Linked DNA regions of Homo sapiens. The protein of the gene in region 3 purifies or fractionates together with the protein of the main gene of each other region. This does not show direct contact. Each region holds a gene or a part of one and is shown on either strand. Other genes may lie near its edges. The genes, in order: RMDN3, GOLM1, SLC7A14 and FAM162A.

Evidence for each region.
Region 1: the proteins of SLC7A14 (region 3) and RMDN3 purify together in Homo sapiens (affinity purification with mass spectrometry; 2 studies listed by BioGRID and IntAct, with this or other methods). This does not show direct contact.
Region 2: the proteins of SLC7A14 (region 3) and GOLM1 purify together in Homo sapiens (co-immunoprecipitation; 3 studies listed by BioGRID and IntAct, with this or other methods). This does not show direct contact.
Region 4: the proteins of SLC7A14 (region 3) and FAM162A purify together in Homo sapiens (affinity purification with mass spectrometry; 2 studies listed by BioGRID and IntAct, with this or other methods). This does not show direct contact.

What each region holds. Positions count from the first base shown.
Region 1 is NC_000015.10:40,745,253-40,752,278, forward strand, and holds part of RMDN3 (regulator of microtubule dynamics protein 3), read right to left. Parts: intron 6,927-7,026; coding exon 6,734-6,926; intron 6,419-6,733; exon of another isoform or gene 6,318-6,418; coding exon 6,174-6,317; intron 2,483-6,173; exon of another isoform or gene 2,379-2,482; intron 8-2,378; coding exon 1-7.
Region 2 is NC_000009.12:86,089,543-86,096,568, forward strand, and holds part of GOLM1 (Golgi membrane protein 1), read right to left. Parts: intron 1-7,026.
Region 3 is NC_000003.12:170,478,073-170,485,098, forward strand, and holds part of SLC7A14 (solute carrier family 7 member 14), read right to left. Parts: intron 5,451-7,026; coding exon 5,242-5,450; intron 3,095-5,241; coding exon 2,217-3,094; intron 1-2,216. UniProt on the Homo sapiens protein: Imports 4-aminobutanoate (GABA) into lysosomes. May act as a GABA sensor that regulates mTORC2-dependent INS signaling and gluconeogenesis. The transport mechanism and substrate selectivity remain to be elucidated.
Region 4 is NC_000003.12:122,380,186-122,387,203, forward strand, and holds the start of FAM162A (protein FAM162A), read left to right. Parts: upstream 1-3,996; 5' UTR 3,997-4,080; coding exon 4,081-4,114; intron 4,115-7,018. Other genes in the region: protein MIX23, read right to left, coding at 2,989-3,039. UniProt on the Homo sapiens protein: Proposed to be involved in regulation of apoptosis; the exact mechanism may differ between cell types/tissues.

The DNA.
Region 1 (7,026 bases), on a different chromosome or scaffold from region 3:
TGTGTAACTGGCAGAGAAATGTAAGGGACAACAAGAGGATTATTCAGCTCAGAGCCCCTAGGGTCTGTCTATCCCTCACCCCCAAAGAAGCACTCTACATGGCATTGTCCAAAGCACCAAATCACAATCATTCATACCTCTTAAGGGCAGACTTTTTTTCTTTTTTTTTTTTTTTTTTGAGACAGGGTCCCGCTCTGTCACCCAGACTGGAGTGCAGTGGTTCGATCTTGGCTCACTCAAACCTCCACCTCCTGGGGTCAAGCAATTCTCCCACCTAATTTTTTTGTATTTTTAGTAGAGACGGGGTTTTGCCATGTTGCCCAGACTGGTCTCAAACCCCTGGCCTCAAGTGATCCGCCCACCTCGGCCTCCCAAAGTGCTGGGATTACAGGCATGAGCCACCATGCCCAGCAGAAATCATTATTTGAGAGAAAGTTTCCTATGGGAACTAAGGGCTGGGAAAATGATCCAGGAAGGAAAGAGCAGACAACCAGCTGAGGCCCTGTGACAGTTAAGGCAAATGTGAGAAGTCCCTGCTCGTTTTTGCCTTATCAGTCAGAGACACTTGCCACAACCAACATGGGTGGGTGCAGCCTCAGGCCATGGGCAGCCACACACACATCCACAAACTCGCAACCTCTGGCCCAAGTCAACAACCAAACCTAAACCGCAACAGGAGTAGCCCATAGTAACCTTGAGAACTTAAGGGTGTGAGGAGAGGTGATAGGAACCACTTTGCAGCCAGAAGCAAGAAGGGGAAGACAATGCAAACTACCCCCTGAAAAGGTGTTTGGGGGGCTGCCATATGCCAGGTGGCTCCTAAGGAGCCCCAACCCTGATGCACCCACTAAAGAGGAAGCTGAGTTTCTCTTGGATCTCAGCCACCAGCAGCTGATTAGGGTGTTTTCCCTAAATGCCTAAAATAGATAAGGACTGAGCAGGGGAAAAGGTAGGACTTCTGGGGGTCAGAAGCAAACACAAGGCTGGGGGCGGTGGCTCACGCCTGTAATCCCAGCACTTTGGGAGGCCGAGGCGGGCGGATCAGGAGGTCAGGAGATCAAGACCATCCTGGCTAACACGGTGAAACCCTGTCTCTACTAAAAAATACAAAAAATTAGCCAGGCATGGTGGCAGGTGCCTGTAGTCCCAGCTACTCGGGAGGCTGAGGCAGAAGAATGGGCGTGAACCCGGGAGGCAGAGCTTGCAGTGAGCGGAGATCACACCACTGCACTCCACCCTGGGCGACAGAGCAAGACTCCGTCTCAAAAAAAAAAAAAAAAAAGAATAGGCTCCCTGTGGCTGGAGCAAAACAGGACTGAAGGAGAGATGACACACCACCTACAAATAAAGTCAACAACTGACAGCCTAATGTCAGGGCAGAAGTGCTGTCCTGCCCAGAAAACCAGAAACCACAAGGTGGCAGGCTCTGAAGGCTCTGGAAGTGAGCAGCCAGACCTGGTACCCAGTCCGTGCTGACTGCATCCTTACAGAGGAGCTTCAGCCTCATCTAAAAAAGAGGCCCCAGACACATCTACTACAAGAACTTGTAAGGTATTTAAAACCTTTCCTAACTGCACCTTTGTTTTTTAAGAGGTTATCCAAGTAGATTTCCCCTTTAGTTATTAGAAAAAAAAAAAAACACCTTTAGAAATCAAAGGGACAAGGATAAGTGTCATTAGATTTCGTAACCAACCTGGGTACTGATGAGGGAGACCACCCACAGGCAACCTAGAGAATGAAACTCCCAACTGCACCTGCCAGATTGAGAAAAATCAAACCAGAGTCTCCTCTGCCCAGCCAGGCCCAAATGCAAAATGGGTAGATGGTTTATCTGGAACGGGAAGCTGGAATTGCATCATCTCCCTTTGCTAGAAGGAGGGGGAGACCCTATTTCTTGCTGAGTTGAGGGCTGCCTCAGCCAATCAGGAGTCCAAAGAGGAGTCTCTCTGCCTCCAGCACTCCCAGGGAGGGACCTAGCCCTGCTGGAGCCCAGGCATCAGCACAGAATCCCCTGGGACCTGAGCTGCGATGCTGCCATCCCTCTGGATCCTAAAGGCCCAGCTCACAAAGCCAAGAAGAGAGGTCAGGGAGCCTTGCTGCCACAAACAGAGTGAAAGATGGTAGAGCCCTGTGAGGCAGGGAGGCTCCAGGGAAGCTGGCATAGAAAGTAGACTTTAATTGCATCTCAGCCCCACTTTAAGGAACCCTCAACAATCTGAAACCCTACTGCCTGAGGCAGCTTCTGGGGCCTCAGAAGAGATTAATCACATGCCAAGGGCTACCACATTTACACCATTCTCTCTCACTTTCCACCTCCCAGACTAACCCAGCCAGCCTTTGGAGAAATCTACCAGAGAGGAGTGACCCTTTTAACATACCCTGAGGCTTTTGAGATCTGCCAGAGACGAGCAGGGACCTTTGAAAAGGCCCTTTGGTCCTGTGCACTCCGGAGGACAGGAGTTCCCACAGTGGGCCAGAGACCCAAGGCTCCCTCTGAGCAGAGACTGCCACTCTACTCTTAAGCAGTAATGAAGGACTCAGTTACACACATCTCTCCTCCTGGCAATTAAGTTTCTCTTAACCTAAACCATGTTAGAGACTGAGTATGAGGCCTTCAAAGATAACCAGGCACATGGACCCTGACCTTGAGATAAGACCCAACTTAATGAGGTCATAAATGCCCAAGAAGGAGTCTTCACGATGAGGCTGCAGGCAATTTCTCTTGGCTGAGATGCCTGGGAAGGCTTGCTGGAGGAGCTGGTATTTTAGGGCAAGTTGGGTTCTGACAGAGGGAACTCAAGCTGTGTTTGGTACAATGCCCGGGGAACAAGCTCACAGAGCTGCACAGTGATTCTGCCTCTGCCACCCTCAATCTCCTGAGACCTCAAAGTTGTTATTTGGAAGAAGGAAGGAATACAGCTTTCAGTGAAATCAAGCAGCCCATCAAATCTCAGCCCTTCATCCCTCAAAGCAGCTCTCCTTGCCCCAAGACACACATGTTCAAAGCCATTTCAGAGTTTGTAGACTCCTAGAGCTCCCCCCTTGACCTACATGGCAATGACCATGGCACAAAGAATCATTCACCACGGCCACTGCCCTAGAGAACAGCCGGCTCAACCACACAGTGTTGCACCACCACCTGCTCTCATGCCACGGGACTGGGCATGGGACACAGCCTGAAGGCGCTATAATTAAGAAATCCACTCTTCCCCTTGCCCCATCACAGGTGTCTGGCAGCCCTGGCCTGCTCCTTGTGGCCTTGGGAGTCCCAGTGAGCACCCCTAGCAGTGAAGGACCCCCAGGTGTCCCTGGTTAACTGCTCTGGCTCCCACTGACCCCAGAAGTTTGTACTTCTTTATTTTTTTGGGATGGAGTCTTTCTCTGTCACCCAGGCTGGAGTGCAGTGGTGCAATCTCGGCTCACAGCAAACTCCACCCCCTGGGTTCAAGTGATTCTCCTGCCTCAGCCTCCGGAATAGCTGGGATTACAGGCATGCACCACCACGCCCAGCTAATTTTTCTATTTTTAGTAGAGACAGGGTTTCACCATGTTGGCCGGGCTGGTCTCGAACTCCTGACCTCAAGTGATCTGCCCACCTCAGCCTCCCAAAGTGCTGGGATTATAGGCATGAGCCTCCACACCCCAGCCTCAGTAATTTTTTTTTTTTTTGAGACAGAGTACTGCTCTATCACCGAGGCTGGAGTGCAGTGGTGCCATCTTGGCACACTACAGCCTCCACCTCCTGGGTTCAAGTGATTCTTCTGCCTCCGCCTCCTAGGTAGCTGGGATTACCGGTGCCTGCCAACATGCCTGGCTAATTTTTGTATTTTTAGTAGAGACGAGGTTTCACCATGTTGGCCATCTGGTCTTGAACTCCTGATCTCAGGTGATCTACCTGCCTTGGCCTCCCAACGTGCTGGGATTACAGGCCTGAGCCACCGCGCCTGGCCTAGTACAACTTCTTTAAATCATCACAAAGAGGACCAGGTGCGGTGGTTCATACCTGTAATCTCAGCACTTGGAGGCTGATGTGGGAGAACTGCTTGAGGCCAAGAGTTCAAGAACAGGCTGGGCAACACAGTGAGACCCCATCTGTACAAAAAAAATAAATAGAATTGGCTGGGCATGGTGGCACATGCCTGTAGTCCCAGCTATTCAGAAGGCTGAGGCAGGAGCACCACTTGAGCCCAAGAGGTTGAGGCTGCTGTGCTGTGATGGCACCATGGAACTCCAGCCTGGGCAACAGAGTGAGACCCTGTCTCAAAACAAAACAAAACAAAAACAAAAACAGTTGTGAAGGGCCTCAAGCTTTCTTTGATTTTGGGCAGAGCTGTGACCTCTCCTTCTGTTCAACCTCCTTACAGAGTTCAAACATCAATTCCCCACCCAAGTGGCCTGCTTCCTTGGGTTGCAGAGATGTTCTTTACATCTCAGTGCCCACTATCAACTACTTCCTCGGTCTCTCTCTTCAATTCAGATGTATCAAATATTAATTTCATTTTTGCCCCCTCTTTAACACAACTTCTGGAAGCATCTCTTGGCCCAGAGCCATTTAGGTAAATTGAATAGAAAAGGGCCACCTCTGTTTGCCCTTGAGAATGCAGATAACAGGGATCTGACAACCCAGGCAACAGCAGTCCCCCATGGAAGAGCAGAGAGCTCTTCACCACCACTCCACAGGTTTCTGGAGACCCCGGAGCACTCATCAAATCCAGCGTTGGTGATAATGACATTTCAGTCAACCACGGACTGCGCATATCAGTGGGTGCATACGATTATAATGGAGCTGAAAAATTCCTATCACCTAGTATTTACATTGTATTTTATTTTTCTGAGGCAGGGTCTCACTCTGTCACCCAGGCTGGAGTGCAGTGGCACAATTATGGCTCACTGCATCCTCAAACTCCCGGCCTCCCAAGTAGCTGGGACTACCGACCCATGCCACCATGCCCAGCTCGTTTTTTTTTTTTTTTTTTTTTTTCTTTGAGATGGAGTCTCACTCTGTCTCACAGGCTGGAGTGCAGTGGCGCAATCTCGGCTCACTGAAACCTCTGCCTCCTGGGTTCCAGCAATTCTCCTGCCTCAGCCTCCCGATTAGCTGGGATTACAGGCATGCACCACCACACCTGGCTAATTTTTGTATTTTTAGTAGAGACAGGGTTTCGACATGTTGGCCAGACTGGTCTCAAACTCCTGAACTCAGGTGATCCGCCCACCTTGGCCTCCCCCAGGTAGTTATTTTATGTAGAGACGTGGTCTTGCTGCCTTGTCCAGGATGGTCTCAAGCTCCTGAACTCAAGCAATCCTCCTGTCTCGGCCTCCCAAAGTGCTGGGATTACCCATGAGCCACCACCACACCTGGACTGATTTTAACTTCTAGTTTCCATGTACCTGCTTATAGCTAATTCCTCTGATCCAGCATAAAACTTGGCTGTTCTCTACACCAGTCTTTCCCTTAAGAAGAATAAAGGCTGGACAAGGAGAAATCGGCCTCTAGGCCTCACACAGGCTACCTGAATAACTGGAGCTAGCAGCAGATAAGGTCAGATGGGTCAGATGCTGCTACTGACATCACACTCTATCCTTGGGACCAGAGTTTCAAAGTGGTGCTAGTGGTTTAAACTCAAAACACCCTTAGCATGACCAGACTTGGAGGAGGCTGTCCACCAGACTCCTGCCAGCTGCCCCGCCTCACAGAAAGGCCTATCGTCAGCCCTCCTGGGCCACTGAGAACTCAGGACATCCACCTCCCACCTGTAAAAATGCAAAGGATCACAGGCAAGGCTCCCCTGTGGGAAGAGGGTGACTCCCAGGGAGGAGCATGCTTCGTGCTTAGACATCTCCGTATACCAGCTCAGCCACCCAAGGAAAGGAACAAAGTCAAACAATGCTTATCAAGTCCTTGTGATAACACAGAAAAATGCCCAAATAATATATCATAACTATGTAATAAACTAAGATAACAGATGCAAGCAATAACTGCTATTAACATCTACATTTGTCTGAATGACATAAATTGGATGGGTTTTTTGTTTCAACTCTTCTGTATTTATTATACTCTTACCTGTTCCAAAAATCATTTGCAGCAGCTTGGTTTGAATTTTCCATTGATAATACTTTTACAAAACACAACCTGGCTGTAGCCATAACTGCCTCCAAGAGAGACAACTCACCCCCCTTCACTCTCAGCATCTGTGAACGTGGCTCCCGAGGAGGCCGTGAAGTAGACAGAGCTGGAGCCAGTGGAGTCACTCCTCTCCCGGACAAACGGAAACCTTCGCCGCCGAGCCACTCTCTGGTTCTCTTCCATGTGGCATCTGGAAAGCAGGCCCCATCCCGAAGGGTACCATTAGGTCCCATCCAGCTTGTCTTTCTGCTCACCATGGGGTGCCTCTTACTACTGCTCCTCATTAAAGGGCTAAAAGCAGAGAAAATCCTAAGTCTCTAACCCTCAGGAGGGCAAGCAGGGCAGCTTCCTGGGCCCAGCCCGCACAGACAGACTAGGTTAGGCAAACAGAGCGCTTCAGCTGCTACAACAGATCAACCATGAGAGTCCAGAAGCAGCAAGGAGCATGTGCAAGGCGAGGTACCAAATGTACAGCTTCAACCCAGATTAGGCTAGAAGCTATAGAACTGGTTTATTCTTTAGAGACAGACAGCGAAGGCCAGAACACACCCCAGCTGAAAAGCTGCAGGGGAGGGATAAAGCAGGAGAAGAAGCCGCATTACTCACCGGACCTCCCCAACAATCTCCCCCGCAAGCCCTCGCAGGCTGCTTCTCAGCTCCTCCACCTCCCGCCGCAGCGCCACAAGGCTGGTCAGCACAAAGTCCAGGCGGTCCAGCACCTTCTCCTGTCCTTCCCGTGGAAGGCTGGGCAGCACTGAGGCATCTCCAGCCCCACCTGGGACAGCCCGCAGGAGCATCACTGAAGGGGGAAACGAATGGGAGCCAGTGACACACAGGAATATGGTGGGGAAGAGATCTCACACCCAGAATTCAAGAATACCTGCTTTCCATTGGAAGAG
Region 2 (7,026 bases), on a different chromosome or scaffold from region 3:
CGATTTGGCTATTGATACTTGCATATGCTTCACGAAGTTCTCGTGCTGTGTTTTTCAGCTCCATCAGGTCATTTATGTTCTTCTCTAAACTGGTTATTCTAGTTAGCAATTCCTCTAAACTTTTTTCAAGGTTCTTAGCTTCCTTGCATTGGGTTAGAACATGCTCCTTTAGCTCGGAGGAGTTTATTACCCACCTTCTGAAGCCTACTTCTGTCAGTTCATCAAACTCATTCTCTGTCCAGTTTTGTTCCCTTGCTGGCGAGGAGGTGTGATCCTTTGGAGGAGAAGAGGCATTCTGGTTTTTGGAATTTTCAGCCTTTTTGTGCAGGTTTTTCCTCATCTTTGTGGATGTATCTACCTTTGGTCTTTGATATTGGTGAACTTCAGATGGGGTTTCTGTGTGGATGTCCTTTTTGTTGATGCTATTCCTTTCTGTTAGTTTCCCTTCTCACTGTCAGGCCCCTCTGCTGCAGGTCTGCTGGAGTTTGCTGGAGGTCCACTCCAGACACTGCCTGGGTATCACCAGTGGAGGCATCAGAAAAGCAAAGATTGCTGCCTGTTCCTTCCTCTGGAAGCTTTGTCGCAGAGGGGCACCCACTAGATGCCAGCCGGAGCTCTCCTGTATGAGGTGAGCTGTCAACCCCTGCTAGGAGGTGTCTTCCAGTCAGGAGGCACAGGGGTCAGGGACCCACTTGAAGAGGCAGTCTGTCCCCTAGCAGACTTTGAGTGTTATGCTGGGAGATCTGCTGCTCTCTTCAGAGCTGGCAGGCAGGAACATTTAAGTCTGCTGAAGCTGTGCCCACAGCTACCCCTTCCCCCAGGTGCTCTGTCCCAGGGAGCTGGGAGTTTTATCTGTAAGACTGGGGCTGCTGCCTTTCTTTCAGAGATGCCCTGCTCAGAGAGGAGGAATCTAGAGAGGCAGTCTGGCCACAGTGGCTTTGCCGAGCTGCAGTGGGCTCTACCCAGTTCGAACTGGCAGCTTTCTTTACACTGTGAGAGGAAAACCACCTACTCCAGCCTCAGCAATGGCGGATGCCCCTCCCCTCTACCAAGCTCGAGCATCCCGGGGCAACTTCAGACTGCTGTGCTGGCAGCAAGAATTTCAAGCCAGTGTTTCTTAGCTTGCTGGGCTCCATTGGGGTGGAATCCAATGAGTTAGACCACTTGGCTCCCTGGCTTCAGCCTCCTTTCCAGGGGAGTGAACAGTTCTGTCTCGCTGGCGTTCCAAGTGCCACTGGGGTACCAAAAAAAAAAAAAAAAAAAAAAAAAAAACTCCTGCAGCTAGCTCAGTGTCTGCCCAAATGGCCGCCCAGTTTTGTGCTTGAAACCCAGGGCCCTGGTGGTGTAGGCACCTGAGGGTATCTCCTGGTCTGTGGGTTGCGAAGAGCATGGGAAAAGCGTAGTATCTGGGCCAGAGTGCACTGTCCCTCATGGCACAGTCCCTCATAGTTTCCCTTGGCTAGGGGAGGAGTTCCCCAACCCCTTGCACTTCCTAGATGAGGCGATGCCCCACCCTGCTTCTGCTCACCCTCTGTGGGCTGCATCCACCGTCTAACCAGTCCCAGTGAGATGAGCCAGGTACCTCAGTTGGAAATGCAGAAATCACCTGTCTTCTGTGTTGATCTCGCTGGGAGCTGCGGACCAGAGCTGTTGCTATTTGGCCATCTTACCAGCCACTCTGTTGTTGTTTTAAATAACCTAATCTTGTCAATCCTTTATTACTTCTCGATTGTTGTTATATTTAGAAGGGCATTTCCTATTCTAAGTTTATAAACAACTTACCCACATTTTTTTCCAATGTACAGTTTCATATTTACATTTAAATTGTTCATCCATTTAAAACTCCTTTTTGATGTAAGGAGTAAGGAAATACAAAGAATGCAGAAGTAAGGAAATACAAAGAATGCAGCTTTTTTTTTTCCTGTAGTGACAAGCCAGTTCTGCCAGGGCCCTCTACTGAATAATCTATTTTTACCTACTGCTTTGAACAACTATCTTTGTTATATACTAAATTTTCTAACAATATACTTTTTCTTAAAGAGATGGAATCTTGTCGCCCAGGCTGGAGTGCAGTGGTACAATCATGGCTCACTGCAGCCTTGAACTCCTGGACCTAAGCAATCCTCACACCTCAGTCTCCGAGTAGGCACATGCTGCCGCACATGGCTTGACAAAATACTTTTAGATGTGACCCTTGCAAGGCCTTTTGTTATTCTAGTAGAGGTAAGTCAGTGGGTGGGGTATATTATAAATTTGAAAGCAGAAAATAAACTCCATTCTCACTTCAAGGGAAGTGTACAGATAACCATTTAATATTCTCTTTTCTTTAAACAGCCAATAAAAAATTTATTGAGCAGCTACCATGAGTCAGGTGCTGTATTCACATCAGGCAGCTCAGGGTGGTATTAAGAGCACAGACTGGAATCCCATTGCCATATCTGAATCCTGGCTCCACCACTCAGGAACCCCACAGACTGGAGCCTCACAGCCATGTCTGACACTGGCTCCACCACTCAGGAACTCCAAGACTGGAACCCCACAACCATGTCTGACCCTTGCTCTACCACTCAGGGGACACAGGACCTGTCTGTGCATCACTGTCCTGCTCACAAGGTTTTTAAGAGGATTCAGTGAGTTGAGTGAGAAGCGCTTAGAGCTACATTTGGCACATAGTAATTGCTCAACAAATGTTGACAACTATTAGGGATGGAAAGATGAACAACAAATCATTTCTAGATTCAATCTTTTTTCCATTTTATGAGGAAACAGTGATGCATGTTTTCCTTCCATAACCATTCTACTTTATAGCAACCAGTCCTCCTCTTTCCTTCTCCTGACTCTGCCACCAACTAAAATAGCAGTACCTGCCATTACCTGGGGCTGACCTACAGTTGCCACTGAGGCCGTGGACATCCCAGACCAGGATCATATTATGAAAAAGGTTTGAGGAAGCCAAGCCTCAAACAGTCCTGGAAGTCATACAATCCTGGAAGCCCCTCACTGTCACCCAGTGCTTGGCTGGCCAGGAAGGTGAGCAGCTGTCTAGACAGCACTCTTAGGAGAGCCCTGGGCTCCCAATGGGAGCAGGGCTGCCCAGGTAAATAGTGACACAAGGAAAGGAAGTAACACAATGAGGCTTCAGGCCTGCAAGGTGCCTCCTCACAGGCTTCCAGGACTGTAGAAACCCTTGCTGCTGAAGGATAAGGGACACACACTGGCGAGAAATGATCAAGACTGATGAAGGCTGGTGGCAGGAACTCACAGGCAGAGTTTATGGTGGTCAAATACATCAGACACTCTCCCTTCTCCCACCTTAGAATTTATTTGGATTGCGGATGAGATGGAAGTGGGTGAGTGATATACTGCATCAAACAGAGGTATTAATTTAATATTCATTTTCATTTAAGCTTCAGAATATGTTTGTCTCATACTTGGTTATAAGCTTCCAACATACTGAAAATGATTAACTTAAATCAGCTAAACTCTGTGAGGCTCCAGGCTTTCCCAAAATTAAAACAAGTGGTGTGTTTTCACATTAAAAATCACTTGATAGGCTGGGTGTACACAGTGGCTCATGTGTATAATCCCAGCACTTTGGGAGGCCAAGGCAGACGATCACCTGAGGTCAGGAATTTGAGGCCAGCCTGGCCAACATATCAAAACCCTGTCTCTACTAAAAATACAATTAGCTGGGCATGGTGGTGTGTGCCTGTAATCCCAGCTACTTGGGAGGCTGAGGCAGGAGAATCGCTTGAACTTGGGAGGCAGAGGTTGCTGTGAGCCAAGATTGCGCCACTCACTCTAGCCTGAGTGACAGAGCGAGATTCTGCCTCAAAAAAAAAAAAAAAAAAAGAAACAACAACAAAAAAACCCCAAAATTATCTGGGTGTGGTGGCACACACCTGTAATTCCAGCTACTTGGGAGGCTAAGGCATGAGAATTGCTTGAACCCAGGAGATGGAGGTTGCAGTGAGTTGAGATTGCGTCACTGCATGCCAGCCTGGGCGACAGAGCAAGATTTCTGTCAAAAAAAAAAAAAAATCACTTGATAAATCAGAAAAGGAAAAAACTGCATATTCTTACCTACTGGCTTAATTTAAAAATTCAACCTATTGGTTAAAATTATTATTTGCTTTTAAGACAAAATGTTTGTAATTTAACAAAGCCTTCTAATTACTTTTTTTAAAAGAAAGAAAAGGCATATGAAAATGGACAACATGCCAAATACACGAGCCCCTTGACCCTCCTAGTCAAATATTATGTTTAACATTTCCTTATTTTCATATAGGGCTTTAAATCAGAAAAGCAAATATATAGGAGCAATCGCGTCAGATTAGCATGTTTGACCAACATCAACCAGTGCAGAAACTGGGCTTCTCCAAACAGTGGTGGAGCCACACCTCTAACTCCTTCTCAGAGGAATGGCCCCAGCGGCTCAGCAGGAAGTTCAGAAGTCACTGCAATGAGCAAACAGACCTGAGCACACCCCGGCGCAGCCTGGAGTCCGGGAAAGAATCAGTCACCAAGTTTTCTGATGGCCTGGAAATATTCCACCCTGTCCCAAGAATGTCTCTAAGCCAGGGGTGAGCAAACTATGGCCCACAGGCCATATCCGGGCCTGGTTTTTTTTTTTTTAAAGTTTTACTATACACTGCCATAAATACTGCCTATGGCTGCTTTCTGGCTACAAAGTAGAACTGAAAAGTTGAGACAGAGACAGAGACTCACAGACCAACTCTGCCCATAGGGTATTGTGAGGATTAAACATTTACCATCTGACCATTTAGACAGTTTGTCAACTCTGCCTCTAACCCATTGGGATTAAATGACCAAGGTCACTGTGTTCTGCTTAAATTGCTTTAAAAACTTACTAGGAAATACACAGACTCTCTTCCTCTCACTTCCCCAAAATGAACACCATCTTTTCCCCAATGCTAGAAGCTGACAGTGTCTAAAGATTAAAACTTTTAAAATGAATGTATAGTGGTAGGTAGTAGAAACACCAAAAAGCGAGGTGGATGAGTGAAAATGAACTAGGGAACCAAATTCTTCCTGTTTTGAAATTTTCTGAAGAAAGGTTGAACCACCGTCAAGAATATATCCTGGGGCCAGCACGATGGCTCACGTCTATAATCCCAGCACTTTGGTAGGCTGAGGCAGGAGGATCACTTGAGCCCAGGAATTCGAGACCAGATTGGGCAATGTTATGCAGGGAGACCCTGTCTCTACAAAAAAATATTTAAAAAAGAATACATCTTGGGCCAGGCACGGTGGCTAATGCCTGTAATCCCAGCACTTTGGGAGGCCAAGGCAGGCGGATCACCTGAGATCGGGAGTTCAAGACCAGCCTGACCAACATGGAGAAACCCTGTCTTTACTAAAAATACAAAATTAGCCGGGCGTGGTGGTGCATGCCTGTAATCCCAGATAGTTGGGAGGCTGACGCAGGAGAATCACTAGAACCTGGGAAGCGGAGTTTTCGGTGAGCCGAGATAGTGCCATTGCTCTCCAGCCTGGGCAAAAACCCCGTCTAAAAAAAAAAAAAAGAAAAAGAAAAGAAAAGAAAAAAGAATACATCTCAGTAGGAGCTCAATTTTTCCTTGAGTCACAAACTGCCGCCCAAGGGCCCAATCCTGCCAGCCATCTATTTTTGTACACTGCCCACAAATTAAGAATAGTTTTTACATTTTTTTTCTTTTTTTTTGAGACGAAGTCTTGCTTTGTCACCCAGGCTGGAGTGCAGTGGCGCAATCTCAGCTGTCTGTAACCTCTGCCTCCTGGGTTCAAGTGATTCGAATGTCTCAGCCTCCCAGGTAGCTGGAATTACAGGCACATGCCACCACGCCCAGCTAATTTTTGTATTTTCCCTTTTTTTTTTTTTTTAAAATAGAGATGGGGTTTCACCATGTTGGCCAGGTTGGTCTCGAACTCCTGACTTGAAGTGATCCGCCCACCTCAGCCTCCCAAAGTGCTGGGATTACAGGCATGAGCCAACGTGCCTGGCCAGTTTTTACATTTTCAATGGTTGAAGAAAGTTAAAAGAATAATATTTCATGACAGAGTGCTTCAAAGGGCTGAGATAAATTCTCCACATATTCCTGGCTGCCTGGAAGATTATGCGCGCGTGGGAAAGACCCAAAAGAGCCCAGCAGGGCTGAAAACCAAGAAGAACCGAGAACCAGCTGAAACTTGCAGTGTTCCCCAACTCGCACACAGACCTACTGATAGAGGGATGGAGACTGACCTGGCAGGTGACTCCTGGTTCAGTGCTCCTTGGAGAATTTGGATGCCATGAAGTGATATTAGATGTCAGTTTAGCTACCTGTTATTTTGAGTGCTTCCTTAGCGGTACTGTTGAGGCAGTGTGGCTTAGGAAAAGAGTACTGATGTGGGTCAGGCCAAAAGGAATTTTAATCCTAGCTTTCTTACTATTTGCATGAATTTTGGTGAGTTGTATAATCCCCCTCTCTGTATCTTATTCAATCCTTGTAAAAGTCCATTGAAGTAGGCTTACTACTGACCCCATGTTCTAGGATGCAGTGATATGAGACTTTAAATATGTAAAACCTTTTGTTGTGAGGATTAAAAATTACAGCGGCAATAAAGTACACACCACATGATAACTGCTCGATAGGTTTTTTTTTTTTTTTTGGTTTGGAAATAAAAGGATATCTCATGACACATGAAAATTACATGAAACTAAAACTTCTGTATCCATAAATAAAGTTTTACTGGAACAGAACCATGCCCATTCATTTACATATTATCTGTGGCTACTGGGCTATAACAGCAGAGCTGAGTAGTTGTGACAGGGACCACAGGGTCTGCAACATCTAAAATAGTATCTGGTCCTTTTCAGAAACAGGTTGCCAACTCCTGCTGTAGTTCAATGGTCCTTAAAGTGTGGTCCCCATATTAGCAGCATCAGCATTACCTTGGAATTTGTCAGAAATGCAAATTTTGTGGCCGACCCCAGACCTACCAAGTCAGAGGTCTGTTTATTCCACTAATAAATGCAAACACAGG
Region 3 (7,026 bases):
TAATTTTTTTAAAAAAATTTTTTGAAATGGAGTCTTGCTCTGTCTCCCAGGCTAGAGTGCAGTGGTGTGATCTCAGCTCACTGCAACCTCCATTTCCTGGGTTCAAGCAATTTTCCTGTCTCATCCTCCCAAGTAGCTGGGATTACAGGCACTTGCCACCACGCCTGGCTAATTTTTGCATTTTTTATAGAGATGGGGTTTTGCCATGTAGGCCAGGCTAGTCTCGAACTCCTAAACTCAGGTGATCTGCCCTCCTCGGCCTCCCAAAGTGCTGGGATTATAGACGTGAGCCACTATGCCCAGCCAAGAGATTGTAAATGTGTTATAAAAATTGGTTAAAATCTTGATGAGTCAGTGGGGTCCTCTCAAGAAATCCTCCTGAAGTCTAACCAGGGGGACTTAGAATAGTGAAAAATTGGGACAAAATGCTTACAGGAAGCCATAGAGCAGCCTTCAGAAGCAAGGAGTCAGGCCTCTGGGGAAGACATATGCCCTTTCCATTGGTTGCTACTTTTTCCCCCACTTCTTTCTATCTATATCTTAACTTATAGGGCCACTTTGTATTCTACCCCCTCCAAGTTTTTTCTGGCAATTCTGACTGGAAGTTTTCCTTTTTCCCCTTTGAAGAGTACTTTATAATAATTTAAGAAGTATTTTTGAGCACATACTGCGGGCACCCTGCTCCAGACACGGAGGACACATGTTGAACAAGTGTATTCCTGATCTCTAGGAGTGGATGCACTGCCACTCATCACTAAGAGTCTCTGTGGGCTGGGCACAGTGGCTCATGCCTGTAATCCCAGCACTTTGGGAGGCTGAGGTGGGCAGATCATGAGGTTGAGAGTTCGAGAACAGCCTGGCCAACATGGTGAAACCCTATCTCTACTAAAAACACAAAAATTAGCAGGGCATGGTGGCACTCACCTGTAATATCAGCTACTCAGGAGGCTGAGGCAGGAGAATTGCTTGAACCTGGTTGGCGGAGGTTGCAGTGGGCCATGATCAAGCCACTGCACTCCAGCCTGGGCGACACAGCAAGACTCCATCTCAACAACAACAAACAAAACAAAACAAACAAATAACAACAACAACAACAACAACAAAAAGAGTCTCTTTGGCCTCTCTTGGGCTAAGTGACTCGTGTGTTTGTCTTGCCTCTCCTTTAGGCAGGGTTTACTCTTCTATTCCCCAGAGCTTCTAAAGATCCTCTTTAGCTAAGAATTTGTTATCAGAGACCCCAGGGTTACCAAGTTGTTCAGAGGACATACAAATAGTGACTAAGGAACTTTAAAATGAGTCTTCCATTACACTTCTCAAGTTCTTACTAGCATCAATCCCCAGCCACCTCATGAACATCAGAGATTGTCCTAGATGATAAGCAAGTACTGCAAATACAATAGAAATGGATCACAAAGTAAAATTAGAAATCTTAGAGAAGGTACAGGACTTCTTGAAGTCCGTGAAAGTGAGTTTAGAGAACAATTTGAATTCACACCCAAAATTGTAGACAATTGAGGACCTAACAGAGTCATATTAGTTATTACCAGCAGGAGAGAGAAAATCAGTAAGGATGGTGGCATGATGGGTACTTCCCAAGTGAATGATTGGAATGTCAATGAATGAAGAAAGGACCTTGGGAAATATGAAAAACTTTTGAATATTTTACAAAAGTCAGTATGAAGTGAGAGATGTTAAATGATGCCATGATTCAATTTTGTCAGAAAAATTATGCCAAAAAATCCACACTTAATTCACACCTTGTTCATTTAAAAATGAGAGCATAATTGCTATTTTAATTTAATTTTGTGAAATCTAAGATAGTTTTTCATTTTACAATTCTTAGTTTCTATGATAAAATTCCATCCAAATGCCCTGACCCCAATTATACTATGCTATTTTTGTCACCTTAAAAATGTGGATTCACTTTAAGTGGACTTTTTCTGGTATTAATTATCCTGATATAGAAAGAACTTTCAGTAATTCAGTAAAGCGATGGATTAATCAACATCATTTTTCCAGAACCAATGACTAAGAACATTACAGGCAGAAAGGGGACAACTGGCTTTATTGACTCTTAGGCGGAACACAAGGGTCCATAGAACCAGCCAGATTTCTCTGGGAACGGAGTTGCCTAGTCCAGCTAGGAGGTAATTTTGGGATAAGCATGCTTAAGACCTTAAAAGGGAACTCTTAAGGCTCCAAAGGAAGTTGCTTACCCACAAAGCACCAGACCGCAAACCGGATCCATGTGATGGTGGAGAGCTTTAGCATGAGATAGATGTTCACCAGCATGGCAAAGGCAGGCACAAAGGGGAGGCAAGGGGCCATGTAGGGCAGCTTCTTGGGGTTCTCTGGCTGCTGCAGGATCACAAACACCAGGGTGCTGATCAGCAGCACCATCAGAACAACCAGAAGGATGGCCCACCAGCTCTGCTCTGAGATGTAGTCAGAACCAAAGATGATGAAGGAGCAGAAGATGAACATGAGGATGAAGAGCAGGAGCACGCAGATGGTCACCGTGTGCCCCGTCGCTGCTGTGGGCCGGTCCATTTTGCCTGGAAGGCCCAGCCGGATTCTCATGGTGTAATAATGAGGCCCAATCAGCTTCTTTAACTTGATGAGATAAATATTTTCGGATTCATCAGCTTCTATGCCTGTGGTCATGTCCACGGTGCCGTAATTGGGGTGGTTGACGTTGTAGGTTGACTTGTCTGATTTCCCTATGAGCATCTCATTGTCTCCCAAGGATGGTAAGTTCTTGGCCCCACATGTGTTGGTGGCTGGGCCAGAAAACTCATCCCCCTCACTCACAGGAGAACAAGCTTCCTTCTCACAGTCAGCCAGAATGCCCTCCTTCTTCTTGGTGTGCTCCTCAGACAAGAACTTGACAAAACCATCAATGTCACTCTCAGGTTGGTATCGAAGGAGCAAGACACAGACAGAGACCAAGGTGTAGGCCAGGAGCGTGCCGATAGACATCATCTCTATCAGGTCTCTCAAGCTGACCAACAGTGCGAGGAGCGCTGCCAGGAACCCCGACACGATGCAGGCCACCACTGGTGTCTCTGTGTAGGAGCTGACGTGAGCCAGGAACCTGGAGGGGCCGGGCAAGCAGAGGGTTAATGGTGAGCTACAGTGACCGATTCCAGTGCAGCCAACATAGGGAGCTAGAACTATCAATAGGCTGGTGTGATTAACTCCTCCTGGTCCTGCTCCACCAATTTACTTCTGCATTCACTACTTTAAATCCAGCTGCTATTCCTACCCCAGGATTTGGTATATAATTAAAAAAGAATTCACTTTAAATCTTTGATTTCTTTTTTTTTTTTTTTTTTGGTGAGATGGTGTCTCACTCTGCTTACTCTGTCCCCCAGGCTGGAGTGCAGTGGCGTGATCTCAGCTCACTGCAACCTCCACCTCCTGGGTTCAAGTGATTCTCCTGCCTCAGCCTCCCGAGTAGCTGGGATTACAGGCATGCACCACTACACCCGGCTAATTTTTGTATTTTTAGTAGAGACAGAGTTTCACCATGTTGACCAGGCTGGTCTCGAACTCCTGACCTCATGATTCACCCACCTCAGCCTCCCAGAGTGTTGGGATTATAGGTGTGAGCCACTGTGCCTAGACTAGTTCTTTGATTTTAAGGCAAAGTTCTTTAGTAAAGTTCCTAATCATTATGTAATGGGAAGGGTTGATTGAACCTAGGAGGTCTGTCTTTCAGAAACCTAGATTGAAGCCCAGGCTCTGCGTGAAAAAGTGATGGTTGGAGGAAGTCATGGACCTGCTTGGGGGTCCTCCTGACCTGTGAACTAGCATCTTAGCATTCTCTTGGAGCTTGTTAGAAATGTATATTCTCAGGTTTCACCCAATAACTACTATACCAGAATCATAGTAGGGTGAGGCCTAGCAAACTGCTTTAAAAGACCTCCAGAGGATTCTGATTTATGCCAAAGCTTGAGACACCACCTATAACAAAAGTTCATGGGTTTAGTTGGCAAAATAGCACAGTAATTGAGAAACTGTGCTCGTAGATACAGATTTATGTCCAGCTAGTTACTGACTGAAGAAGAGACCAAGAAGAGCGACTGAATGGCATGTGCAATAGGCTCCCTCTCCTCTCCCCTCTCCTCCTGGTCCCTTATTTTTATGGTTCACACAAGACTGTAAATGTGTTTGAAGCCCCAGTATCTTTCCTGTTAGTTTCTTTGACAGCAGAAAAATCTTTTGGATGTGTGAAGTTCCCACGCCTCCATCACCCTAGGCCCCTCTTGATCTGTTCGGCAACCTAATCACAGCAGCTCTGATCTGGTGATGGCTTCAGAGAGTATGCAGGGGAAATGAGTCAGAAGATGATGTCTGCAGAGACAAAGTCCCTGAACCGGCCCCCTCTGCACACCTGAGAGCTCCTTGGCCTCCACGGTTTACTCCTTGCTTTGTGCACTTGAAGAATGCCTTCTCAGCAGGCCCCTCATGCTGGAAACAAAGGGCTGGGGCCACATCCCCTTTGTACCATGGGCAGATGGGCCACTTCATGGCCAATGTAGGGGGCAAGAACTGCCAATATATTGGTGTGGTTAAAAGTCTGATTTTTGGAGTCGGATGTTCTGGGATCAAATCCTGACCTGCCACTCAGTAGCTGAGGGATTTGTGGCAATTTTGTTTCACCTCTCTGAGTCCTAGTAGACTTCATATGCAAAATAGAGTTACTGTGAGGACTAAATGGGATACTGTATACACAGCACCCAGGACACACAAATGTTCAATAAATGGCAGCTGGTGTTGCAGGTATTGTTAGGATCTGTTCAGAGGGTCTTATCTACTCTTTGTTGACTTTTTTTTTTTTTCATTTTCAGAGGGGCTGTGGAGAGTGGGGCAGTTACCAGGCCTCAATGTGAGGGCAGGCCTAAGATGTCCCTAGGATGGTTCTTCCTTCTGGAGGCCACCCAGTACAGCAGTTTGGCCCCATCATCTTCACAAAGGAGCACGCAATGTCGACAGGAGGGAGGACAGTGGGGGGACACACATCAGCTTGTGCTGGATTAAGGGACTGCAGAGTTAAACTAGGGGCTGCTTCAGGGCCTGAGCTCTGTTACTCAGACTTTTCTTCAGGATACATAACAAGGTCCACAGTCCATGTGAAAGGCACTGATGTCAAAATCACAGTCAGTCTGACAGTGGGTAGACATTCTCCCTGGACAGACGTGGCAGAGCAGGATAAATTTCATGGAGCATAGCCCTTACCTGAAAAGGAGCCCGTCACCAGCCATGGCATAAATGACCCTCGGCATCGGGAAGAGGGACCCCAGCAAGCTGACTGTCAGTCCTGCAACCGACCCAATGGCCACTACGAATTTGGCAGCATAGAACCCATGAGCCACAAACATCTCCATGAGTGGGGATTCCGTGTCAATGGTATAATATGGCACCATCAGAGTTAAGATCACGCTCACCTGTTAAAACAAGAGAAGACAGGGCTGGAGGTACAGGGGAAGAACAGCATGGATAGAGGCCCCACGGGAGAGGAAAGAGCCCTGCCCCTGGAGGCAGAGGCTTGCATGGCAGTTTGGATCCATTCACTTGCTGGCATGTGCCTTTACTGTAGACCAGTCATCTGGCCTCTAGGCCTTGCTCAATATTATTTCCCCACATGTGAATTTAGTGGACTGGGCCAGAAACTCTCTATCTCTCTGGTCCTTTGATATCTGAGGAGTAAGTCTGCAGGTATTTCAGCCCCATGAGCAGAGCTATGCTAACAGTTCAGTGGAGAGCAGATATTTCTGGAAGGAAGGAGCTGCAGCCAATGCCCTGCAACCAGGGCCTGGCAGGGACCATGAGCACCCTGCCCACGTGGACAAGACTCTCATTTCTCTTCTGCTTTCTGGTCCTACAGGGTTTTATCCGTACTCCCTCTCACTGTGAAACACCAGAGATAAAATCTCCAAAGATAAGTGCTTAAGAGGTCTATAGCCTATTAACTGTTGGGACCCAGATAAGGACTCATATTTCTATTTCCTTTCTCTAGCTTAGTCCTAGGATCCAGGCAGGCCAACAGACAAATGATGGCATCAGGACAGAATCAAGTCCTACTGATTATATGGCTGTCAGACAACTATGGCTTTGCTTAATCAGGAATCATTTACTGTGTGTGCTATAAGGGTCCACCCCCAGAGAAGAGGGAGATGCGAGGGAGGAGCAGAAGAGGAAATAGAGAGCAGAATGTCTTTGCTATTCCCTCTACCCTACCACCCCTCCTTCAACACTCTGCCTACGGGGAGAAATCAGGGTATGGACAGGACAAAGCCACTGGCATGCATGTGCATCGGGGAGGTGATAAGCACTTAACTGGGGGCTCCCAGGACCTACTCCCCTCGCATATTATTGATCTGCCTAACATCCCTGCCTTCAGAATTGGCCATAGGCAATGGAGCCACCAGTCATATGGCCAGATATGGGGGGCCCCCCAGGCCTATGAAGGCCAAATTGACATCAAGAAGGGATTCAAAGCCTGAAGGAAAGAGGGTGGTCACATGTAGACCATTTCTTTGCCTATTCCTCTGGAGCCAAGATCCTCCAGTGGAGCCAAGGGCCACCAAGGAGGACAGGATGTCCTAGCAAAGCCCAGCAACCTTGTTCTTCTCATGGTGGGGGAGGGGCTGCCTGCTGACCAGTACAAGACCAAACAGCTCCTAGGGCGTGTTTAAGGCCTGTGCAGTATGAAAGAGAATGTTTCCTAGTAACATAACCACTTGCAATATTTCCTCTGGGGATGGGGCAGGGTGGGCTGGAGGAGAGTGGGATTGAGCCTCCTCCAGCTTCAGGGAGTCTCCTGAGTTAGATCAGGATGGGTAAAAAGTTGGTGGATCATAGAAGTACTCTGTGGTCTATAAAGTGCTATTCTAAGGAGGGCACTGTGATGATTGACTTTATTGTGTGTGATAAGGGCCCACTCCTGGAGGAAGGGCGGGAATGAAGGAGGAGTAGAAGGGGAAATGCAGAGTGTCCTTGCTGTTCCTTCTGCCCCGCAAC
Region 4 (7,018 bases), about 48 Mb from region 3:
TGATATGGAACTCCCTTAACCTTTCCTCTCCTCTCCCTTTGCCTGATGGTACCCAGAAGTAATGTCATTGGTACTTGACATCAAAGTCCCTTTTACATGATGCTCTTTTCAGACAGATCTGGTTCCTCAAACTCTATTTTTACATCAAAGCTCCCACGGTGCTTCCCCCAAACCAGAAACACAAACTTGTCTACAACTGCCAGAGTCCTCTAACACCCAGCATCCCCAGGACAGGAATAGAAAGCAGCCCTGTAAGCATAAAAGAAACCATCATTGATGCTAGAAAATAACCTATTTAGTACCTAATTACAATGTGATTCAAAAATCACTTATGTGTCAATGAATATTCCTAATAGAAATACTAATATTTAAACATGCATGTTGAAGTGCTGGGGGGTGGGTATGATGAAAGAGACACGTATGAGGACAATAATAAGAGACATGACAAGAGGCACTTTGGGATTGGATTTTAAAAGGTCTTATATGCCATGTTAAGAAGTTTATATCTAGTCATATGAACCCAAAACTCAAAAGCATAGCTTAGATTATAAAATTCAGAATATAATAGCATATGCCACAGTATTATGGAGATTAGATTGAAGGGGGAATATAGTAGAGAAAAAAAGTGCCAGAAGATAGGAAGGCCTGTTGCAAAGCTAGTTTCAAAAATGATACGGGCCTAAACAAAGCCACTGGCAGTAGTGATGAATCTTCCTAAAGCACCTCTTCGATCATCTCACCCCTCTGCCCAAAAAGGACTCCCTAACTCACACGTGACACACAAGGCTTTCCACAAATCTGGTTGCAATCTTGTGTAATCCCAATGTGCCCCTGTATGAATAATGTGTTCTAGCAATACTGATTTTCTATTTCCTTTAAATACATAAAACTTTTTTGTCTATTATCCTATTGCCTCTGCCTAGAATACCCCTAGTCCCTGCCTGCCTAAGGCCCAACTCTCTAAATTCTTTCAGCATTTTATTCTTTTTTCTTCCCAATATTTTCTACATTTTATAGCCCTACTTAGATTACGTTCCTTGTTTTATACTCCATCCACTGGGTTTCGCAAGTGCCAGGAGACTAGTAGGTATCTGTTACGGGTTGAATTGTGTGTCCCCAAAATTCATGAATCCCTAATCCCCAACATGACTGTATCTGGAGATAGGGCCTTGAGGTATGTAATAAAGGTTAAACAGAGGTCATAAGGGTGGGCCCTAATCCGATAGAACTGATGTCCCTATAAGAAGAGGAAGAGATAGGCTGGGCGCCATGGCTCACGCCTGTAATCCCAGCATTTCGGAAGGCTGAAAGGGGTGCGGATCACCTGAGGTCTGGAGTTTGGAACCAGCCTGGTCAACATGGTGAAACCCCATCTCTACTAAAAATACAAAAATTAACCGGGCACGGTGGTAGGCGCCTATAATCCCAGCTACTCAGGAGGAGAATCGCTTGAACTCGGGAGGTGGAGGTTGGAGTGAGCCAAGATTGTGCCACTGCACTCCAGCCTGGGGGATAGAGCGAGACTCTGTCTCAAAAAAAAAATAAAAAAAAAAAAAAAAAGAAGAGGAGGAAGAGATAGCAGAGATCCTTCTCCTTCCAGGTGCAGGCACAGAGAAGAGATAGTGACATAGAGAAGACATGGTGAGAAAGCAGCCATTTACAAGCCAGGAAGAGAAGCCTTACTATAACTAATTCTGATGGCACTCTTTTTCCCCCCTTAAATCAAACTGTATAGCCTAGAAACTGATGGCAGCTTAATCTTGGACTTCTAGTCTCCAGAACTGTGAAAAAATAAATCTCTATTGTTTAAGCCACCTAGTCTGTGGTATTTTGTTATGGCAGCCCTAGCGGACTAATACAGTATCTAATAAATTCTTGAATGCATGCTAAAATGGGATTCTAGGCACTCGATTTTAAACACTCTTTTCTGGATTTTATTTCAATTTGGAAATAGGATATTTTACAGAAGTACTAAATCTAATTTTTATAATGAAAAAATAAGAGTTGCAAAAATTTTAAACACTTTAGGCCGGGCGTGGTGACTCACGCCTGTAATCCCAACACTTTGGGAGGACGAGGCAAGAGGATTATTTGGTGAGACACTCTCGCTACAAAATTTCTTTTAAAAAATTACCCGGGCGTGGTGACACGTGCCTGTAGTCCTAGCTACAGGGAGGCTGAGGCAGTATTCAAGAATACCACTACCTTCAAACCGTTCAAAGTACAAAGCTTACTACAGATAGGTCAATTTTTCAGTATCTTGGGTTAGTTAATAATGCAATACATATTTAAGATCATGATTTTGGAATTCAACTTTGTAACTAAACAGAAGCACATTTATGACTGAATTGGAACAGATAACTTTAATGGCAACTTGGTCAAAACCAGATCCCTATTCTTGCATTCAGGTGTTAATAATTAGCCCTAGGTCTCTGATATTTGAACATAAAAAGGCAAAACCTCTAAATATTACATCTTCTCTAATGGGCAATGACACTAGAGCAGGTACTATAATTAATCCTCCCTCCAAGCTTCCATACGTCCTGTCCCACAAAAATAGTAAATTGCACCAAGTATGTTTTATCAACTAAATAGCTCTTCTGCACCTTCTTCTCTCCCACAAAAACTCTACTTACAAAAGTAGGAGAGGAATGGCAGAAGCTGGAAACTGAGTTCAGGGAACTGCTACAAGATTGTTACAATCCTTATCCACGCATCCCGAGCTTTACCACAGCAGATTACCCAGAGCTTCCCAGACAAGGCCGGAGAGCCGCGGAGAGAACTATGACCCCCCTCCTCCCTCCTCCTACAGAGCAGCCTCGCTCCCTAAGGCCAAACCCGCGCCCCCCATGACCTCCAATGGCTCGAGAAAAGAGCTTTGAATTGCCCGCTTTTTCCAAAGCTGGTTCATACTCCCTCGCAAAGCAGGGAATAGGGTCTGGGGACAAAAGGAGGCACATGCCTGCCACATGAGGAAAACCCCATCACCTGGAACTCGGCGAACTCCTCACAGTTCACACCGCCACTGGGCGCCGCCATATTGGACAAACACGAGGACCCCGCTGCAGGCCAATCACCGCGGAGCAAAGGTGACCGCGGAGTCGCCTGACAAAAAATATAGTACGAGGGGAATCCTTAGGAAAGCTGAGTGCAAGGCTTGAGTTCAACGTGGTCCGCATCCACCTCGGAACCTGTCACCCTGCTGTCCCAACCCTTTTAACATGTCCTCCTGGAACTGGGCCAGATACATGGATCAAAGATTGTCAGACCTTGAAGGGACTGTTTACTCCAATCCCATCTTTTCACAAAAGGGAAACAATTTCCTTGTGGTTCCCCTACCAGGTCGTTGAAGGAAATCTAGGCAAGTGAGGCCTTTCTAATACCTCTCACTCCAGTGCCTAACCTCCTCCCCGGACCCTGGAGCAGGGGGGTCTTTGTTAAGAATTTGGGACCACTAAGAAACGTCAAGAAAAAACGGCATTTCTGGCAGTGTGGGTGGGTATGAGTAAAGTGTTTAGGATGGAGATGATCAAATGTTTTTAGAAAATAGGTAAATAGAAAACAAATTGAAAACATACATGTTAATTTCTCAGATTAGCCTGAGGGATGCTCCAACAAGAGATAGGGCCACTGAGCAGAGTCCAATTATGTGTTTTCTGATAAAAGCATATGTTCATTGAAAACACTGGAAGAGCGGCATACTGGAATACTGGTTTATCTGGTGTATTTCGGGAGTTTACAGATCACGAAAGTTGCACATTTCCTTTCTATTTCACACAGGTACTCCCATGGGTACATATCCGCTAGGGCAAGGGCCCACGGCGCCACACTCCACAGGACCATCTCCGAGGCTGGCTCAGGATGCGGCGCCAGGGGCACTAGGCTGGCGCCGCGGGTCTCCAGCGCGTGGCGCACGTCCTACACGCCCCGCACTGGCGCAGGCCTGTACACCGCGTCGCGCACGCCCCGCCCCCCGGCGCCGCCTGCGTCCTTCCCACTCCAACGCTGGGTGACATTGAGCTCACCAGCGCCACCGTCCCCGGCGAAGTTCTGCGCTGGTCGGCGGAGTAGCAAGTGGCCATGGGGAGCCTCAGCGGTCTGCGCCTGGCAGCAGGTGAGACGCCGGTCGGGATATGGGAGGTAGGGGAGCTGGCCCGGCCGCTGCGGGTGGGGGAATCCTGAAGCCTTCCTGGGCCCCGGAGTGGCTCCATTCCATGACGCACTTTCTCGGTTCCTCAGAATCCTACCTACTTAGTAGCCATGTGGGAGGGAACTAGGTGAGCAGCTGCTGATAGGCATTGGAGACTGCCCGTGAATTACCCTCATCTCCATCCACCCAGCTCCCACCAACTTAACTGCCCACGCGCCTACCCTTCTCCCCACCCCCGTCCTCAGCCTCCCCTGAGCTCAGTCTGTAAAGCACCTACTATCCCTAGACCTCCCCTTTACCCATGCATTCAGCTTTCCACCCTAACCTCCCCTATCTATTGCTCTCCTTGAGTCTTCCCTCTTCCCCCTGCTCCTTCCTCTCTGGAGTTTATCCCAGAAAACCTCCAGTCTGAAGTTTCCCCACTCATTAAATGTCTGATTAGGCCAAGGATTTAGGTCTTAGAGATTAATAATAATTGTTTTCTTAAAATGGAGGATACATTACTTTTAAACACTTATACAATTAATTGATTCGAATTTCTTGGAGGAAGTGTGTAATTGAAGGATCTGCAGTTTGTTTTGGTGGTAGACATTTGTGTGATGACTATTTTGGACTTAGGTAATGAAAGCTTAATTCTTTTTTTTTGGGAGAACCAGCAGAGCCTTGGCATAGTAGGGGTTGAGAAATCAGAGGGCTTGCATTTTGACTCTTTTCTGGGTACCAGAGATCTTTTGTTCAATGGCACACACTACATTATTAAAAAGTTGTTAATTAAATTTTTAAAGGAAAAATAGCCCCAAACTTGGCTATTCAAATAATATAAATATATATTGTAATGTAAATGAAGTAATGCAAAAAAAAAGAGTGAATGTTGCATAGTTTCACAAGTTTGATACATAACCTTCCCCACCTCAAGATTATCCTTTACACAGCTTATCTAGTGTTCCGGTAGAGAATGGACTGGAAAACATGTCTCAAACTAGAGAGTATTATTATATTTACTTCCTTTAAAAGCAAACACTTCTTCCACTAAAATCCTCAATACTATGATTTCATTGATTTTGTCAGTTTTGTTGAACTAATTCACCTAAAATATCTTCTGTACATCCTATTAACATTATGAAGCTTTTCAACAAGGCAAGTGAAAGGATCATTGCTCTGTAAAAAAGTTAAAATGGACTGCATGAAAAGAACTTTGACATCTTGGAACTACTTTGACATCTTTGAACTAATACTGAGTATATTGTAAGTAGTTCATCTTCTTGCTTTGAGAATATATTTATGCATCTTGCATAAATATATTTTTGCATCTCTGCAAACTTCTGATGTGTAAAAACTTCACTATTGACCACTTAACCAAAGCAGAATTCCTTGAGTGATTTAAGAACAATTTATTTTACTTCAGATATAAAATTTTTAATAGCACACTAAGGATGTTATATGAGCAGCTCTCTCCATATGATCTTCCACGAATGTCTGATGCTTTGTGAGCAACTCCGCAACAACCTACTACCTTTCACCCACTTCATAGCTAAATACTTTCATATACATTATTTTGTTGGATGGATTTCTCATAGCAGCCCTCTCAGGTAAGTCTTATTCCTCCCACACTTTATAAATGAAGAAACATAGGTCAGAGATGACTTGTCCAGGATCTCTTTGCCAAAAAATGTTAGAGCCAGGAGAGGGTACCCTTTAATTCTGGAATTTTTGTGCTTTTTGCTGTTGTTCAAGCTGTTCATTCAGGGGCTGTGCGTGTGTGAATTTGTCATGACTAATTGGATCTCATTAATCTGAAATGGAAGAGTCATGAAATGCAGATTTAGTTCTGAAATGAAAGTACACCTTCATGTGCAAATGGCTTTTCAAGAAAGAAGACTGCTTTAATAAGCAGCCTTAGCCAAAGGAATGAAAGATCAAATAGAAATGTAGGCTCAATGTGGTGGCTCACACCTGCTATCCCAGCACTTTGGGAGGCTGATACTGGAGGATTGCTTGAGACCAGGAGTTTGAGACCAGCCTGGCTAACTTAGCAAGACCCTGTCTCTACAAAAAAAACTTTTAAAAATTAGCTGGGCATGGTGGCTCAAACCCATAGTCTCAGCTACTCAGGAGGCTGAGGCAAGAGGATCACTTGAGCCCAGAAGTTTGAGGCTGCATTGAGCTATAATACGATCATGCTACCACATTCCAATCTGGACAACAGAGTGAGACCCTGTCTAAAAAAAAAAAAAAAAAAGAAAAGAAGCATAATCTAGGCATACCTTACTTATCCAGAATATTTGGAATAAGATTCTCTAGGTAAGTGAAATTTCAGATGATCAAAACTTAACCTTATAAATGATGGACCTTTACTTTTGTTTCTGTTGGAAATCTTTGGTATACTCCCTTAGCAAACAATATAGCAAACATAATGTAGGCTTTTATGAGCTCGAATTTGTTGTTTTGTAGATGTAGTTGTAGATACAGATCAGGGTTGTTAACTTGTGGTACTGGACACCTCCACATTTGAGAGGTCCTGTGAACTTCTCAAATTTTTATGATTGTATACCATTTTTGAGAGAGAGGGTCCATATTTTATATCTGCTACTCAGAGCAGTTCATGCTCTTTAAGTTAAAAAGCACTGATACAGATGATTAGGAACTAAATGGCCATTTACCCACACTACGCTGGGTTTCATAAGGGTAAACACTGGCTCTGTTTTGTTTTTACTCAGTCCTTACCACTTATTGGTGTTCAGTTCATAGTAGACAGGCAATACATATTTTTTGGATGAAGGATGCTAGGAAATATCTTGGAACATGCTGCAAATGTAAGGTGAGTTTTCACACCTGTTTTCTCCTGAAAGAATAAAATAGATATAACTT